Homo sapiens: one gene and its partners. The main gene of each other region encodes a partner of the protein of the gene in region 3 in a complex. Each region holds a gene or a part of one and is shown on either strand. Other genes may lie near its edges.

What was found. Proteins that work in one complex are often made in the same cells at the same time.
Region 1: NCAPD2 (region 3) and NCAPG share a complex: the UniProt entries of both Homo sapiens proteins name them as parts of the condensin complex.
Region 2: NCAPD2 (region 3) and SMC4 share a complex: the UniProt entries of both Homo sapiens proteins name them as parts of the condensin complex.

The regions. Positions count from the first base shown.
Region 1 is NC_000004.12:17,841,979-17,845,365, forward strand, and holds the end of NCAPG (condensin complex subunit 3), read left to right. Parts: exon of another isoform or gene 1-331; coding exon 332-401; exon of another isoform or gene 402-1,323; coding exon 1,324-1,447; 3' UTR 1,448-2,887; downstream 2,888-3,387. UniProt on the Homo sapiens protein: Regulatory subunit of the condensin complex, a complex required for conversion of interphase chromatin into mitotic-like condense chromosomes.
Region 2 is NC_000003.12:160,402,650-160,409,649, forward strand, and holds part of SMC4 (structural maintenance of chromosomes protein 4), read left to right. Parts: intron 1-26; coding exon 27-218; intron 219-1,678; coding exon 1,679-1,855; intron 1,856-1,938; exon of another isoform or gene 1,939-2,036; intron 2,037-2,095; exon of another isoform or gene 2,096-2,176; intron 2,177-7,000. UniProt on the Homo sapiens protein: Central component of the condensin complex, a complex required for conversion of interphase chromatin into mitotic-like condense chromosomes.
Region 3 is NC_000012.12:6,511,006-6,518,160, forward strand, and holds part of NCAPD2 (condensin complex subunit 1), read left to right. Parts: intron 1-104; coding exon 105-247; intron 248-3,259; coding exon 3,260-3,387; intron 3,388-3,458; coding exon 3,459-3,582; intron 3,583-3,767; coding exon 3,768-3,915; intron 3,916-5,822; coding exon 5,823-6,020; intron 6,021-6,359; coding exon 6,360-6,494; intron 6,495-6,590; coding exon 6,591-6,678; intron 6,679-6,773; coding exon 6,774-6,954; intron 6,955-7,155. UniProt on the Homo sapiens protein: Regulatory subunit of the condensin complex, a complex required for conversion of interphase chromatin into mitotic-like condense chromosomes.

The sequences.
Region 1 (3,387 bases), on a different chromosome or scaffold from region 3:
AATAATAGAGGTACTTCATTATAACACATTTTTCATATACTGTCCTCAAATACATTGAACTAAAATTTGCCTTCTTTTAACTTGCTTGAAATTTCCTTATTTTCCCTTACTCATTATTAGTGCTTACAAAATAAATTAAGTTTTAATCTTGCTTGGGTTCCTTTTTCTGTGGCAGTGATAACTGGTACCAAGATGGCTAGAACAAGTAGGAGATACATGTGTTGAAAGGATTGTTGTGTTGAAGACAAAGGATTTAGTTAGCCTAGAAACTAGATTAAAAACAAAAAGCAACTGATAATAAATCCTGATAATGAATTATACTATCTTCAAGGACAGAGAAAAGTGACAGTTTCAGCTAGGACGAACAGGAGGTGTCAGACTGCTGAAGCCGACTCTGAAAGGTATGTCATGCATGTCTAGAATATATGGAGGCCTATCTTCACTTTTTATTTCTACAAGTAGAAAAAAACTAATTTTCTTGCGAATGAGAGAGAATATATAACAAGATAGTGAAAACTATAAATAGCTGTCTTAGGTATATAGTCTAAAATTCCATCATCAAGAGCATTTGACTTCTTACGGCGTGTTTGCTTTTGCCTATTAGCTGGCATGGTCTTTAGTACTATCTTTAATATGTTGTTTCAATTTTTAATTACATGATGTGACTCCTCTTTGATCTTCAGTTAGCAAACTCTTGATTTTGATAATATTTGGGTTCTCTACACTTACATACTGATAGAATAATTCTGTCTATAATTTGGGTATATTGTGTGGTAGAGTGTTTTATTTTTGGCTTCTGTCAGTCAAGCCACTGTTAGAGCTGAAAGTTGGTAGCTGTCTTGTATTCATTTGCAAAATTGTATTGTGTGTATTTTCAGTACATAGTTTTACACTGTTGATTAAATTTGTCTTTTTTGGGGGGAAACTTGTTTTTTACTATGTTTTTGGAATTTATTGCTTAAATCAAGAGAGAGAACTTAATTTTTTTGTCACTTCTTGAGTTTCAAAGAAATCTCTTTTGGACAGTTATGGTCCTCGTTTAATTACAAGCTTCATTACAAGTTTGTGGCTTTTTTTCCTGTATAACACCAGGTTCTGTTATAGTATATAAAATCATTAGCTAGATTTTCCCTGATTCACTTTGCTAGATAGCCAAGTCAGTGTTTTTTTGACATTGAGATTTTAGTTTTAAGCTAAGTCAATGGAATCAGGCTATCAATTAAACACTGATAGAATGTGAGTCAGAAACAAAAAAGTTTTATTTATAAATAAACTGGTTTTAAAGCTTGTATCTAAATTCGTGTATTTTCAACATCTATTTAGTGATCATGAAGTTCCAGAACCAGAATCAGAAATGAAGATGAGACTACCAAGACGAGCCAAAACCGCAGCACTAGAAAAAAGTAAACTTAACCTTGCCCAATTTCTCAATGAAGATCTAAGTTAGGAAAGACGATGGAGGTGGAATCCTTTAAGATTATGTCCAGTTATTTGCTTTAATAAAGAAGAAGTTACCCTTGTCAAAATCAGAACAAACCTGATGTCTTTCTGAAGATTTTCTGCTGTGCGCTTCCACGTTACTTTGGCCTGTATTAAAGCAGTAGAGCAGCATCAGTTATTATAGTCCAGAAAAAGTGTGCATCAGTCAGTCACACAGATTTATCACAATCTGAGGTGGGCCTAGGAATCTCATTTTTAAATAGTCTCTCCAAGTGATTCTTATGAACTCTTTATGTTTAAAATCATGTCATTATGGAAAACTTACAAGTGTAACTAGCTAGTAGCTTGCATTTGAGAAGCTTATGACTTAGATGGGCAGAATCAACAAAGATGAAACCGCCTGAGGACACATTTAACAAGTAACATTTCTAGGGAAAATGAAGGAAGTACCACAAACTGGCTAGAAAGGAGCTTATCAATCACCAGTGAGGAAGACCAGTATAACGTTCAACAACAGTTATTTTGACAAAAACTTATTTTGTGATTCCTACAGTGAAAACATTTTTGGTGATATCTGCCTGGGAAATCTCTCTTCCTAAAGTATTTGTATATGGGAGTCCTTGTTTGTGAATGTTTCCTGGATTAGGGAGGTGTCAACATAAATGTATTATTAACCATGAAGCTGCTCGCTATATTTTTGGCATAACAAAATAATATTTATTTACTGTGGATAATAATTCTAGTGGGAATATAATGTGACAGGAACTTCTCTTTATATACGCTACCAATTTATGAGCACTATTCACTGTCAATTTCATTTCTTGTCTTTTGAAATTGACACTTGGCCTGACTTACGAAACTTGTACTATATGAAATTGGTCCTCTTTTCTGCAATACCCAACGAAACACCTTTTCTCTTTATTATTCAGAAATGTCCTAACATGGATCTGTTTGTTTTAATAATTGTGCTTTTTTTAGGCTTATCATCTACTAGAGGCCATTTACTTAAGGTGAAATTTTAAGATGGAGCTAAAGTAAGATCACTGGTTTTTAGAACCAAATTGCTATACATATGTGCCTCATAGAACTTATAAAAGGAGTCAAAGTTTCAAAGCAAGATAGTTATTAAGCAAAAGGAAAAATGGTAATGATAGAAAGTCAGTTAAAAATAGATGATTGTTCTTCATTCTGTTTGTTGGCTCTGTGTTCTCCTGTGCTTCAGATTCCTTATGTGTTGTTGTTTTAAAGACAATTTGCAGGGGGTTGGGAGAAGGACTGAAAAGGTACATTAAGTGTGCTGTAAGGAAAAGTCTTAGAAACATAATAAGCTAAAATCCCATTCACACATGGCCAGGCTATCCAAAAAGAAAGGAGCCATGTTCTCATGTGGTTTACCATACCAAAGCTTGCTTTCTCTGGCATGGGAAAAATAAATTTAAGCACCAAACCTTTAGTATTCTGAGTATTCAGTTTTTAGACATAGTCATGTAGCCATTGCTGAAACTGTGCTTTGCACTATTAAAGGTAGGGAATGTCCTGCTTTTAAAAGTCATCCCTTTAACTTTAAAATAAAAGGCTAAGGTACAATAAAACAGATGTAAATCCATTTACCATTTTTCATTCAAAACTGGTAACTTACAGAAACCACATAGTATTTTTCTCTATCAAGAGGCACAGATTTGCTGAACAGTAAACATGCAATTGTGCCATTGCTCTTAAAGCCCACAGACTTAGATTTAAAATACAGAGAAAGAACTGATAAGCTCACATTTTCCTGTGAATGGGAAACATGCTACTTGACAAAAAGCTATGATCAACTTTTTTTCTTCTGTACATATATAACGTTGAAGGAGATTTACTTCTAAGAGATACCTTTGCCTTTTCTTTCACCAATTTGCTTCGAGGTAGTTGGTATCCACCTGTTTTACAACTGCTCATGGGTCAGGT
Region 2 (7,000 bases), on a different chromosome or scaffold from region 3:
GTTTTGTTTTTGTTTTTTTAATGCAGCGCTTTTCCTGTATTATCGGGCCAAATGGCAGTGGCAAATCCAATGTTATTGATTCTATGCTTTTTGTGTTTGGCTATCGAGCACAAAAAATAAGATCTAAAAAACTCTCAGTATTAATACATAATTCTGATGAACACAAGGACATTCAGAGTTGTACAGTAGAAGTTCATTTTCAAAAGATAATTGATAAGGTAAGGGATTTTTACTGTTATTGGCAAGTTCAAGTAAGGAAAATGGACTTAAATGCATTACATATTTTATTTTTGGCTTTAAGAAATTTGTATGTAATTACAGCGGAAAGCATTGGTTTCATTATCTCTGACCGTATTTTATTTTGGGGGAGTGGTGGTGCCTGTTAAAATACTTATTTTTTAGCTAAAGAAATGAAGTATAAATAGTTCATAGTAATCCTTTTTGGAATAAAAGCATTGAGCAGTTTTAGGGTCCTGAGTACTAAATAGGCATTATTTTACTATAAATATTCAGTTCATTTTTAAAGTTATATTTTGATTGCTTTAGAATAAATTAGCTAAACTTGAAAATGTAGCAGTTAGCCGGTTTTACCATCTTCATTATTTCAGTGCATTTTAACTCTAATGTTAGTGGCCCCTGAGTATCTGTGATATGAAAGAGCTTTGCTTCAGTTTGACTACTGCTGTAATTAAGTCCTTTAGAAATGGGGGAAGGACAAGCTAATGTTTGTTTTCTAGAAATGGAGACAACTAGAGGTAAAATGTCTAGATTATTTACCTGTTGAGACTTTTTCTCTTCTGTTTAATAATGTAGGAAATTGATTGTTCAAAAATGACTCGATGGAACCTAAAAATATAGAAAACTAATTACATAATGAAATTGGGAGGTGATTTGTCTTTTGAATTCGTTTTCCTTTTTTTAATACAAAGTGCTTTAATTACACAGAATCATCTATTTTAATTTGGTTTCTTTTGTGCTTTCTATTGTACAAGTTGGGTTGGAAAATAGATTGCCAGGAAATCAGATTTTATTCCATTGCATATTAATTACATTTGATTTATCTAAATTTTAGAAGCCTTTGCTTCAGTATGACAGAACTTTTAAGGTTAAGGGAAAGTGTTAAAGTAGATTTGCAATTGATTTTTTTAAAAATCTGTTTAAAAGAAAATCAAGGGAATTTAGTTGTTATTTCTTTGTGATTCTTTTTACTTTAAATTAACGGCACACTCTTTACCCTCCCACACAAAAAAACTAAAGTGTATCACCCGGTTACTACCTTCCTTCCTTTTTCTTTGAATCATCATTTTAAAAAGCTGCAGCTTTTTAATCTGTCAACATGTTAATAATTTGTGTGGGTTTTGGATATGGTGGGAATCTTGTCTACGTCTTCTCAATCATAAACGTTTTTAGGCTTGTTTGGAGGTGGGTTTTTTCGTTGGCTGGTTGGTTTGGCTTCTTGATTTTTGTGATCTTTGAGAAAGGGACCAAAACAGCATGGAAAAGTATCAATTCTTTGCTAAGTTGGGTTATTAATGAGAACTACTGGCAGTTTGTGTGCATGTTCAATTGAAGTTTTTAATCCATAGAATTAGTTTCAGTATGAAATGAGTGAATTTTGAAGTAGGCCTATGACTTAATACCAACAATTGTTTTCTGGTTTTGTTTTTCCTCAAAACAGGAAGGGGATGATTATGAAGTCATTCCTAACAGTAATTTCTATGTATCCAGAACGGCCTGCAGAGATAATACTTCTGTCTATCACATAAGTGGAAAGAAAAAGACATTTAAGGATGTTGGAAATCTTCTTCGAAGCCATGGAATTGACTTGGACCATAATAGATTTTTAATTTTACAGGTAAGTTTATTAAAGACTTCAAAGATTCTCTTATTCTTGTTACTTTTTTTTCTATAAAGCTAGGTTGGATGAATCCTACATTTTTGAGGCCTTAAAGTACTGTAGCAGCACATCATGGTTTACATGCTACAGTCAAGATGCGAATCATTATTTGCTGCTCTAGAAATTTAAGGAAATTCATTCAAAACTATGTTTTCATCATCAGATGTTCGTTTTATGTTTGGATGAACTGACATACTTGTTCCACTCTAGCAGCACGTAAATATTGGCGTAGTGAAATATATATTAAACACCAATATTACTGTGCTGCTTTAGTGTGACAGGGATACAGCAACTATTTTATCAATTGTTTGTATTTCCCTTTAAGGTAACATTTTAAATGAAATGTATTATATTTTAATCTATCCTTTTCCTTTGTTTTTGTTCTTATTATCTCTTCTGATATATAACCAAAAAATGAAAAAATCTGTACACTTGGTGTTTGATTTACCTAAGCACCTAGTTAATTTAATCTTTGTAACACTTTGGATGGTTAACTTAACCTTTACTCAAGTTGGTTTTTGTTTTGTTGAAAATGACTTACTTGGTGGAACCACTACTACTGAAAGAACGAAACTTTGATATTACATTGTTAAGTATCAGAGCTGTTACAGAGCAAGTCCTTTTAAAGAGATGTAAAAATTAAGTACCTGTGCCAAACTGATTTTTATTAGAAACCCTGTTTTCTTTAAGTAAAAGTATATTCTACCAGCATGGCTTGGTAAGAAAAATCCCCTATCTTTTTTTCCCTGTCCTCAAAATTCAGAATTTTTCGGAAAAAAAAAAAATTAGGGTAAAACCATGGCTTTGTCAAGTTCCTGTTTGATTCGAGGGTATCTTCTTTTCCTGTGTTCTATCCAGAATCACCGAAGCATAATAAAAGCAAAACTATTTTGTGATGCAGAAATGACTGAAATAAGTAGGGAATTTTGTTAGGGTGACTGGATGTTCCTAATAACAAACTTATAAAATGTTAGCCTCTGTTTCCATTTTAGTCTTTATTCTTCAATTGTTTCTAAAAATTATTACTTTTAGACATTCATAGTATACAAGGTAAATCAGTATCATTCTAGGATAACCTTTTTTAATATCTTTTGTTACCAGGCACAGTATATTTGCAATACTTCAACCTAAACTTATTTAAAAATTAATGTTGAGGAAATTAATTGCAGATATATTTCTAAACAAGATTGGAATTTATAGAATGTGGCATTAAAGGATTTTGTGTGTTTTTAAAATCAAATTGAACTGTTTTATTGACTTACATATTCTGGGACTTGGTTTGGTTAATAATGGATAAAAAGTTATGTCCCTATATAATACTAAATTTGATGATGATACCAATTTGCAGGAAATTGTACTTATGTTTATCTTTTGCTTAATCTTTTACCGTCATCCTGGGATAATCAAAGTTTTACATTTATCCAAAGATTCATCAAAATACACTGCATTTTAACCCTTCTAAGGATAATTTTTTTCTCTGTACAGCATCTCTGTACGTAATTCAGTAATAAAGGAAGCTAATGTAATATTGTCCCAACGAAGTAAATAATTTATAAATTGTCAAATTTATATTACATTTGTGCTTCTGAAGTATATGGGATGCTAAAGCCAATTTGTTCACATGATAATCTGAACCTTTTTATGTGATCTTTACAATTGTTTAAAAAACATTTCTTCCCAAATAATACAAAGGTGAATGTTCCAAGTTAACAGATTCAGTTTGACTCAATTAAATTTATAGATAAGGACCTTAGGAACTCACTTGTTAGGAATAAGAAACAGGGATTGGACTACGGTAGAACTAATAGTGCCCAATTAAAACTTTGAGGGAAAGTGACAATGGTTTCTATGGATTGTTTTTTTTAAGTCGCTTATGAAAATCTCAGACTCCTAACTGGCAATTTAAAGCATTTGATGGTAAGTAAAAATGTGATTTTTATTACCTTCTCTCCTACTGAATAACATCTATCTTAAAAACTGATTTGGGAGGCTGAGAAATTGGAAACAGCATCGTAGTATCAACATCCAAGACCTAAATCATTACTTGGAATAAAACATGTAGACTATTTGGCCAGTAATAGTGATTAACAGCAAAAGTAATCTAAATTTAGTAAAAATAAACATTTATTTTTGAGATTAAAAAGAACCAAATTTTTTAGAAGTTCCTAAGAGTAAAATTTTTCAGTGTTAATATATTCGCTTAGCAAATTTTTCAAGTAGGCATTTTTATTACTTAAATCCATTAAAAATTTCATTAATTGGCCATTCAATTGAATTCCTATTAAGGCACTATGCTAAAATGCTGTAAGTAATATTAAGATGGCTAAACCTTATTTCTTGTCCTTAAAGACACATACATGCCTTCAAAAAGTTTGTTGTGATTGACCATTGTGTTTTTTATAATCGTACATTTTCTTTTATATATACCTACTTTGGGAGCCTCGGTCCCGTTGTAAGTCTGTACAAGTAGAGTTTTATTAGCTCTGTATAACATTTCTTGGGTAACTATGACTTATAAATTAGGGGTGCTTTTGCTCCATTCAGGGGTAGAAGAATGGTTAATGTTTTTACTAAAAAGTTGTATTAATGATTGCTGCCTCAGGAATATTTTTGTAAACTCCTCAAAAGCTACAACTATTAGCACAACTTTAATTTTGTCAAAGTTTTCAACTTCATATGCTTTTGTCTTCATATTACAAAATCTAAAGTTTGAAACACGAACCAGGCTGGGTGCATTAGCTCACGCCTATAATCCCAGCACTTTGGAAGGCTGAGGCAGGCAGATCACTTGAGCCCAGGAGTTGGAGACCAGCCTAGGCAACATGGTGAAACTATGTCTCTATAGAAAATACAAAAATTAGCTGGGCATGGTGACACACCCCTATAGTCCCACCTACTCAGGAGGCTGAGGTGGGAGGACTGCTTAAACCCAGGAGGCAGAGGTTGCAGTGAGCCAACATCGTACCACTGCACTCCAGCCTGGGTGACAGACCTTGTCTCTAAATAAATAAATAATAGCCAAGTTCTTTTTTTTTTTTTTAATTATTTTGTAATTTGGAGATTTAATTAACCTAGGTCTGAGTTGTTGCCTAGCCATCTGTTCTTTTTTCCAATGTACTTCTCTTAAGCTTGTCACATAAACTACTTGGGTTCTAGTCTCTTAGTCTGTAGAAATGAGCCTATGCTATAATATCAAAAGAAATTTTTAGTTTTTTCAGTAATGCCTCAGTTTTCCAAAGGTGTCTGATTCAATATCCACAACTAGGGTGAAGGTGGTGGAGAGCAGCAAGGAAGCTACCTCTAACCAACCAGAAATAGATATCAAGAAGTCCAGCTACTAACAAGTTACTCTTTCTGTTTTATTTTAGAAAGATACTAACCTTGGTGGTTTAGTTCCTTGGCCTCTGGTAGCTTACAAAGATCAAATTAGAGTAAAATGTATTGGAGGAAGATAAAGAACACTAATTTATAGTATAGTATAATAAAAGATATAGAAAATAAAAAGATGATCAAGATAAAAACTTAAACCTCAGTAATTTTAGGCCATTTAATTTTTATGCAAACACTCATATTTGCTGTAAGAATCACTGAAACCCTCCTTCATAGTAATTACAAGTAAAAATAAAGAGAAGAATAATTGAGGCCTTACTAGGACAACAAAACTTTGTTATAGCTATGTACTGTTTGAGTTTTCTGTAGTTGATGCTTGCTAAAATTTGGATTACATTTGAATAAGGATAAAGGGCATCATACCTATTCATTCCTCTTAGATTTCTAAGCTGTATTTCAGTAAATTGATTCTCAAAGAGTGGTATAACTGGATCATAATATCCTTGTTTGCCACTCAAGAAAGTGTTCCATAACTTAAGATAACAGTGGTGGGAAAAATCATTTAAGACCTTGTTTCATATGCTTTAAGATACAAGAAATAGAGATAACACTGGGAACATATGAAACTTTGTCAGCATCAGATAATAGTGTTGTAGCGACTTGAAACATTTTTTGTCTGTGATTGTGCCAGTCACTATTTGTGACTTGGATTGAACCTTGATATGACTTTAAATTCAGGTTGATGTTTTAAAATTATTTCTGAAATATATTGAGCTTATTGCCCTAAATTAAAACTATATTCTGTAATTTTACATGAGTTATGTAAGTTTTCTGAAGAAATAAGGAGGAATCCTTTAGGCACAGACTGTCAATCTACAGATTACATAGGAGATGGCACAAATGGAAAAAGAAGGAAGAAAGGAAATGGTAGCAAGTGGTAGGGCAGGCAAAGGACATCAAAGAACAGAGCAACAAGAAAAGTCCCAGGTTGTCATTGTAATACCACAGTAGTCTTAATAGTCAAAGGACAAGTAAAGGCCTGTTAATAGCCTGTTGATTCAATAATGCTAATCTGATAATATGGTAACTGGTTTAAAAAAAAGCAATACGGTATAATAATCTTAAGACTGCTGTAATCCCAGCACTTTGGGAGGCCCAGACGGGCGGATCACGAGGTCAGGAGATCGAGACCATCCTGGCTAACACGGTGAAACCCCGTCTCTACTAAAAAATACAAAAATTAGCCGGGCATGGTGGCGCGTGCCTGTAGTCCCAGCTACACAGGAGGCTGAGGCAGGAGAATGGCGTGAACCCGGGAGGCGGAGCTTGCAGTGAGTCGAGATCGCGCCACTGCACTCCAGCCTGGGCGACAGAGCGAAACTCCGTCTCAAAAAAAAAAAAAAAAAAAAAAAAAAAGACTGAATGTTATACAGGAGTTGAGATGTAACTATTTTGCTTTGTAAATATCCTGCCTTTAAAAAAAAAAATGCTCAACTCTATTAGAGGAAATCATAGCTGTATCTTTCATTTTATTTGGAGAGAGAGGAACAAACAACCAAAAATGAGCAACCATTGTTATTTACCCAAAGCTAAGCTGTTTCTTAATAGCTGTACTCTATCTCTTCAGTAAGTAATTTGCCAGGAGAAATACAATGTTTTTAAGGAATATTTTTGTCAGCGTAAACTGTTAAACACTGAATCCCAACTTTTAGCTATCTGAAAAATGTATACTTAAATAATACATTATGGCCATTTGACTCAAATGTAAGTTCT
Region 3 (7,155 bases):
TTCTATGTTGTCTTGGTACTAGATTGTTTGGGCACTCAGACTGACAGATCTTGACCCACTTTTTTCCCTTATTTTTTCCTCAATGTATACATGATCCTTTTTAGGGTAAGAAAGCTCGGACCAAGGCAGCCCATGGCTTTGACTGGGAAGAAGAGAGGCAACCAATTCTTCAGCTTTTAACACAGCTACTTCAGTTGGACATCCGTCACCTGTGGAACCACTCAATAATTGAAGAAGAATTTGTCAGGTGGGTAGGGAGGATGGCTACAGATAATACTGAGCTGTGAGAGTGAGGCTCTGTTGATAGATATGCCGTTTTTTTGGTTTTGTTTTTTTTTTGTGGGGGGACAGAGCTTCACTCTTGTCGCCCAGGCTGGAGCGCAGTGGTTCAATCTCGGCTCACTGCAGCCTCTACCTCCTGGGTTCAAGCAATTTTCCTGCCTCAGCCTCCCGAGTAGCTGGGATTACAGGTGCCCGCCACCACAAGCTGATTTTTGTATTTTTAATAGAGACGGGTTTTGCCATGTTGGCCAGGCTGGTCTTGAACTCCTAACCTCAGGTGATCTCCCTGCTTTGGCCCCCCAAAGTGCTGGGATTACAGGTGTGAGCCACCACGCCCAGCCAGAAGTCTATTTTTAAAATAAGTAAAATAAGTTTGATGGAAGAAGGTTGTGATTTTAAATCAGCTACTCTAGGCCCGGTGCGGTGGCTCACGCCTATAATCCCAGCACTCTGGGAGGCCGAGGCGAGTGGATCACCTGAGGTCAGGAGTTCAAGACCGGCCTGGCCAACATGGTGAAACCTTGTCTCTACTAAAAAAATATGAAAATTAGCTGTGCATGGTGGTGTGTGCCTGTAATGCCAGCTACTTGGGAGGCTGAGGCAGGAGCATCACTTGAACCTGGGAGAGGGAGGTTGCAATGAGCTGAGATCGCACCATTGCACTCCATCCTGGGCGACAAGAGCAAAATCCCGTCTCAAAAAAAATAGATAGGGCCAGGCGCGGTGGCTCACGCCTGTAATCCCAGCACTTTGGGAGGCTGAGGCAGGTGGATCACGAGGTCAGGAGATCGAGACCACGGTGAAACCCCGTCTCTACTAAAAATACAAAAAAAAATTAGCCGGGCATGGTGGCGGGCGCCTCTAGTCCCAGCTACTCAGGAGGCTGAGGCAGGAGAATGGCGTGAACCCGGGAGGTGGAGCTTGCAGTGACCTGAGATCGCGCCACTGCACTCCAGCCTGGGCAACAGAGCAAGACTCCATCTCCAAAAAAAAAAAAAAAAAAAAAGATAGATAGATAGATAGACAGACAGACAAACAGACAGACAAGCTACTCTAGTAAGACTTCTTTGAGATGGTGACATTTGAGCAAAGACCCAGAGGAGGTGACTGAGAGCTATGAGAATATGTGGAGGAATAGCAAGGGCAGGGAAAAGGAATAGCATATGCAAAGACCTTGAGGAGGGAGCATGTCCAGCACGTACGAGCAATAGCAAGGAGGCCAGAGAGCTGACAGCTGAGAGCAGGTACGAGGGTTAGGCCGTGAGGCCATGGGAGCAGTGGGGAGCCAGACCGCAGGTTCTTGTGGGCCATCATGGTGACTTTGGCATTTCCTCAGAATGAAGTGGAGCCACTGGGGAGCCACAAGCAGGGAGGTGAGGTGACCTGACTTGTACTTCAACAGGGCCATCCTAGCTGTTGTATTGAAATCGACTATGGAGGGAAAGGGGAAGCAAGAGACCAGTTAAGAGGCTGTTCCAATAACTCAAGCAAGAGATGATGGTCTCTTAGACCAAGGCGTGGCAGTGGAGATGGGGAGAAGTAGTTGGATTCTATACTTTTTCCTTAAGGTAGAGCTTACAGGATTTGCTAACAGACTGGGTGTGAGGTGGGAGGGAGAGTTCAGTCAAGGATGACTCTCCCGGGTTTTGGTCTGAGCATTTGGAAGACTGGAGTTAATGGTAACTGAGATAGGGAGAAGGCTGTGAATAGGTGTTTTGGGAGGAAGATCAGATGTTCTGTTTTGGACATACAAAGTTTGAGGTGTTTATTAGCCACGTAAAGTCAGATTTGGACGTTGAATATATAGATCTGGAGTTCAGGAGAGAGGTCTGAGCTAGAGATAACACATTTGGGAATATAATAGTATTCAGAGCCGTGAGACTGAATGAAATTACCAAATCAGTAAGTGTAGCTAAAAGAGCAGGAATCCAAGGACTGGTACCCTAGGGCACTCCAGCATTAAGAGTGAGGATGCCGGGTGCATGGCTCACGCCTATAATCCTAGCACTTTGGGAGGCTGAGGCAGGAGGATCACTTGAGCCCAGGAGTTTGAGATCAGCCTGGACAACATAGTGAAACTGTGTCTCTACAAAAAATAGAAAAATTAGCTGGGCATGGTGGAGGCTGAGGTGGGAGCATCACCTGAGCTATGAGGAGGTCAAGGATGCAGTGAGCCGTGATTGCACCACTGCACTCCAGCCTGGGCAACAGAGGCAGACCCTGTCTCAAAAAAAAGAGTCTGAGGAGGAACTAGCCAAAGAAACTGAGAAAGGAGTCTTGTTCTTGTGTCCTGGAAGCGAGATAAAGCATATATTTCAAGGAGAAAGTGAGTGATTAACTGTATCACATGCAGCTGTGAAAGACCACTTGAGATGCAGATTGAATCAGTCGTTATATTTAGGAATGAGAAGTCATTGGTGACTTTGTCTTTTTTTTTTTTTTTTTTGTGATGGAGTCTCGCAATGTCGCCTGGCCTGGAGTGCAGTGGCATGATATCAGCTCACTGCAACCTCCACCTCCCAGGTTCAAGGGATTCTCCTGCCTCAGCCTCCCAAGTAGCTGGGATTACAGGCGCCCACCACCACACCCAGCTAATTTTTTGTATTTTTAGTAGAGACAGGGTTTCACTATGTTGGCCAAGCTGGTCTTGAATGCCTGACCTCGTGATCCACCTGCCTCGGCCTCCCAAAGTGCTGGGATTACAGGCATGAGCCACCACACCCGGCCAACTCTATCATATTTTTATGATATATTTAGGTTCTTTGTCAGCATCACAACTGGTTGAAAGTTGGTAATCTTGAAGGAAGGAGTACCTAACTGGGGTCAGCAAAGCAAAGCAACTTGTTATAGAAAGTAATGGCTAGAATAAAGAAAACCCTGACTTTGGGAGCAGTAGGGATAGAATGAATGAGGCAGGGCTCTGATACAATTGGATTCAGACAGCTGCTTTCATCATCTCAAACTCTTCCTTTCTCAGTTTGGTTACTGGCTGTTGCTACCGCCTTCTGGAGAATCCCACCATTAATCACCAGAAGAACCGCCCCACTCGGGAAGCCATAACACACCTGCTTGGTGTAGCCTTGACCCGTTATAACCATATGCTCAGTAAGTTACCAGTCGCTTTGCCCCGCCTTTTTTGTATTGCCCATAATTTCTCATGTTTAATGCTTCCACAGGTGCTACAGTGAAGATCATCCAGATGCTGCAGCACTTTGAACACCTGGCACCTGTACTGGTTGCAGCCGTGAGTCTATGGGCAACTGACTATGGAATGAAGAGCATAGTGGGAGAGATTGTAAGGTGACTCTTCCTTCTCGAAGTTTCTCATGCTTATTTTCCTTGGGGAGGGAATAAAGAAAGATTGGAAATACATTATCTGTGCAACAGTAGATTCCTTCAGATATTAGATACCTGTCTTACCTTCCCTTACTGGGAACTGAATAATTGATCTATGTTGCTATGGCTGTGTTTTCTTCCCTGTGTAGAGAGATTGGACAAAAGTGTCCCCAAGAGCTGAGTCGAGACCCTTCAGGGACAAAGGGCTTTGCAGCATTCCTGACAGAACTAGCAGAACGTGTCCCAGCTATCCTGATGTCCAGCATGTGCATTTTGCTAGATCACCTGGATGGAGAAGTAGGTGGTCCACTAGGGGTCACTGAGCTTTTTCTGGGGATTTTAAGTCCAGTGTTGAAAGGCTGTTTCTTAACAGAACAAGAAAGTAGCTTTGACAAGTTGTCTAGATTTATCATTGTGACATTTCCTTTCTGTAGAGAAGCAGGTCAAGTTTGTTGAATAAGGAGCTCTTTATTAATCTGTTAATCTTTCAATTCACATTGCTTTTATCCAGTTCTGGTAAGGGAGATGACATTTCTGCAGCTTAAGTCTAGTAAGAGCAACTCAGCTTTGATTTTTTTTTTTTCTTGGAGGTAGGATCTGGCTCTGTCACCCATGCTGGAGCATGATCATAGCTCATTGCAGCCTCGATCTCCTGGGCTCAAGCAATCCTCCCACCTCAGCCTCCCAAGTAGCTGGGACTTCAGGCACATACTACCATGCCTGGCTAATTTTTTTAGTTTTTGTAGAGGTGGGGTCTTGCCATATTGCCCAGGCTAGTCTCAAACTCCTGGTCTCAAGCAACCCTCCTGCCTCAGCCTCCCAAAGTGCTGGGATTGCAGGCGCTACCATGCTTAGCCTTCAGCTTTGATTCTGAGTCCCATCTGTTCCTCAGGATAAAGCGTCTTCCCACCAGCTGGCTTGCCTTGCTTCCTCAAACAATGAACTTTCTCAAATCAACCCATGTCATCTCTCTCAATTCTCTTTTATGCCTGAATGCTAACCTGGCTGATTCCCATACTGATGTTGGGCACTCCTAGGTGAATGTCAAGGACAAAGACAGTCCACTTGTTCATCTCATTTACTTTAACTTTTTGTGCAAGACCCTATTCTCTGGTTCTTAGCCTGGCAAAACCTTAACCCTGCTCTCCACTAGATTATGTATTGGACTTGCTGGCACTCTTAAGGCTGATTTCCATGTTTCTGTCTCATTTTCTGTCAGTAAAGCATCTGAAGGAGAGTGGGAGGGAAAGGAGGGGATATTTATTAGTAAGGATTAAAGACTTTGAGGCCAGGTGTGGTGGCTCACGCCTGTAATCCCAGCACTTTGGGAGGCTGAGGTGAGTGGATCACTTGAGGTCAAGAGTTTAAGACTAGCCTGGCCAACATGGTGAAATCCCATCTCTACTAAAAATACAAAAAAAAATTAGCTGGGTGTGGTGGCGCGCACCTGTAATCCTAGCTACTCGGGAGGCTGAAGTGGGAGGGTTGCTTGAACCTGGGAAATGGAGGTTACAGTGAGCCGAGATCGCACCACTGCACTCCAACCTGGGTGACAAAACGAGACTCTGTCTCAAAAAAAAAACCAAAAAAAACCACACAGACGGGCGCGGTGGCTCACGCCTATAATCTCAGCACTTTGGGAGGCCGAGGAGGGTGGATCACGAGGTCAGGAGTTTGAGACCAGCCTGGCCAATATGGTGAAATCCTGTCTCTACTAAAAATACAAAAATTAGCTGGGTGTGGTGGCGGGCACCTGTAATCCCAGCTGCTTGGGAGGCTGAGGCAGGAGAATCACTTGAACCCGGGAGTCAGAGGTTGCAGTGAGCCGAGATGGCGCCACAGCACTCCAGCCTGGGCAACAGAGCAAGACTCCGTCTCAAAAACAAACAAACAACCACAATAACAAAGGCTTTGAGACCTCAGCTGAAGGGTAGTTAATAAATGCTTTTCAAATGTGTGTTGGTGAGTGGATGTGATTTTTTTATTCAGCTACTACCATGCTTTCCTGTGTGAGCCCTATGAGGAAAAATTGGTTTTGGCCCTTGTTCTAGCATTCTCTGAGCAACAAGTCCTCTTTGGGATTCAGCTTTCTCCTGTGACCTTGGGAGTGAATACCTAGGCAGTTAATGGAAAAAGTTATGGCCAAGCACAAGCAAGCTTCGCCTTGACTAAAGGTTTGACCCCTCTATGCTTCTCTCTCTTAGAATTACATGATGCGTAATGCTGTGCTGGCAGCCATGGCGGAGATGGTGCTGCAGGTTCTCAGTGGCGATCAACTGGAAGCAGCAGCCCGAGACACCAGAGACCAGTTCTTGGATACTTTACAAGCCCATGGCCATGATGTCAACTCCTTTGTGCGGAGCCGTGTTTTGCAGCTCTTCACCCGAATTGTCCAGCAGAAGGTAACCAACTTCTATGTGGCAAAAACATATGGTACCTCTCCATATACCAGTGTAAAGAGGAATCCAGTGTTGAAGATAAATATCTGCCCCAAAGAGGTCTAGAATTCACATTTTTATTATCAGTAGTAAAAGTCTTCCTCTACCAAGGACGAGGATATCTGGCTCCCTTTAAGGACTGTAATGTGTCTTACCACTACAAGGAGTACTCCTAATCTATATTCTGTAGAAAGGGTTTTTAGAGTGAGTGGGTAGCTCAGTTTAGAGTATACTTAAAGATCATCTTGAACAAAATGGATGATGTGGGACTTGAGCAGATTCTTCTCTTCCTACCCTACACAGGCTCTCCCCCTGACACGTTTCCAGGCAGTGGTGGCTTTAGCTGTGGGACGTCTGGCAGACAAGTCAGTGCTAGTATGTAAAAATGCCATCCAGCTGCTGGCCAGTTTTCTAGCCAATAATCCTTTCTCCTGCAAGGTAAGTAGACTTGGTCCACCAAAAGAGAAGGAATTAAATGGAAACAGGGATGAAATTATGTCATTTACTGACCCTGCTATTCATTTTACCTGATAGCTTAGTGATGCTGACCTTGCCGGACCACTGCAGAAGGAGACCCAGAAATTACAAGAGATGAGGGCCCAGAGGCGAACTGCAGCAGCTTGTAAGTAGTTACTGCCTTGGAGTCCTAATGCCAGACAGGCTTCTCCTTGCAGTCAGAAACTCTAGTGAAAGAGACTAAGTGACACTCTCATTTAGCTGCAGTGCTGGACCCAGAGGAGGAGTGGGAAGCCATGCTGCCAGAGTTGAAGTCTACCCTGCAGCAGCTTCTACAGCTTCCCCAGGGAGAGGAGGAGATTCCTGAGCAAATTGCCAATACAGAGACAACTGAAGATGTGAAAGGACGCATCTATCAACTGCTTGCCAAAGCTAGTTACAAGTAGGCAAAAGAATGGGATATTCTTCGTGATCTGTTTATGTTTAGAGTTAACCTTTGAGAAACTTACATAATGTGTCTTTTAAATTAACTGCACACAGATATGCTGCCACCAGGTGATGGTAGATGTTTTCATGTAGTAATGGTCTGACCATAGGCCTAGTCCACAATTAAGCATGTGTTTCTACTTTATAAATGTTTAAA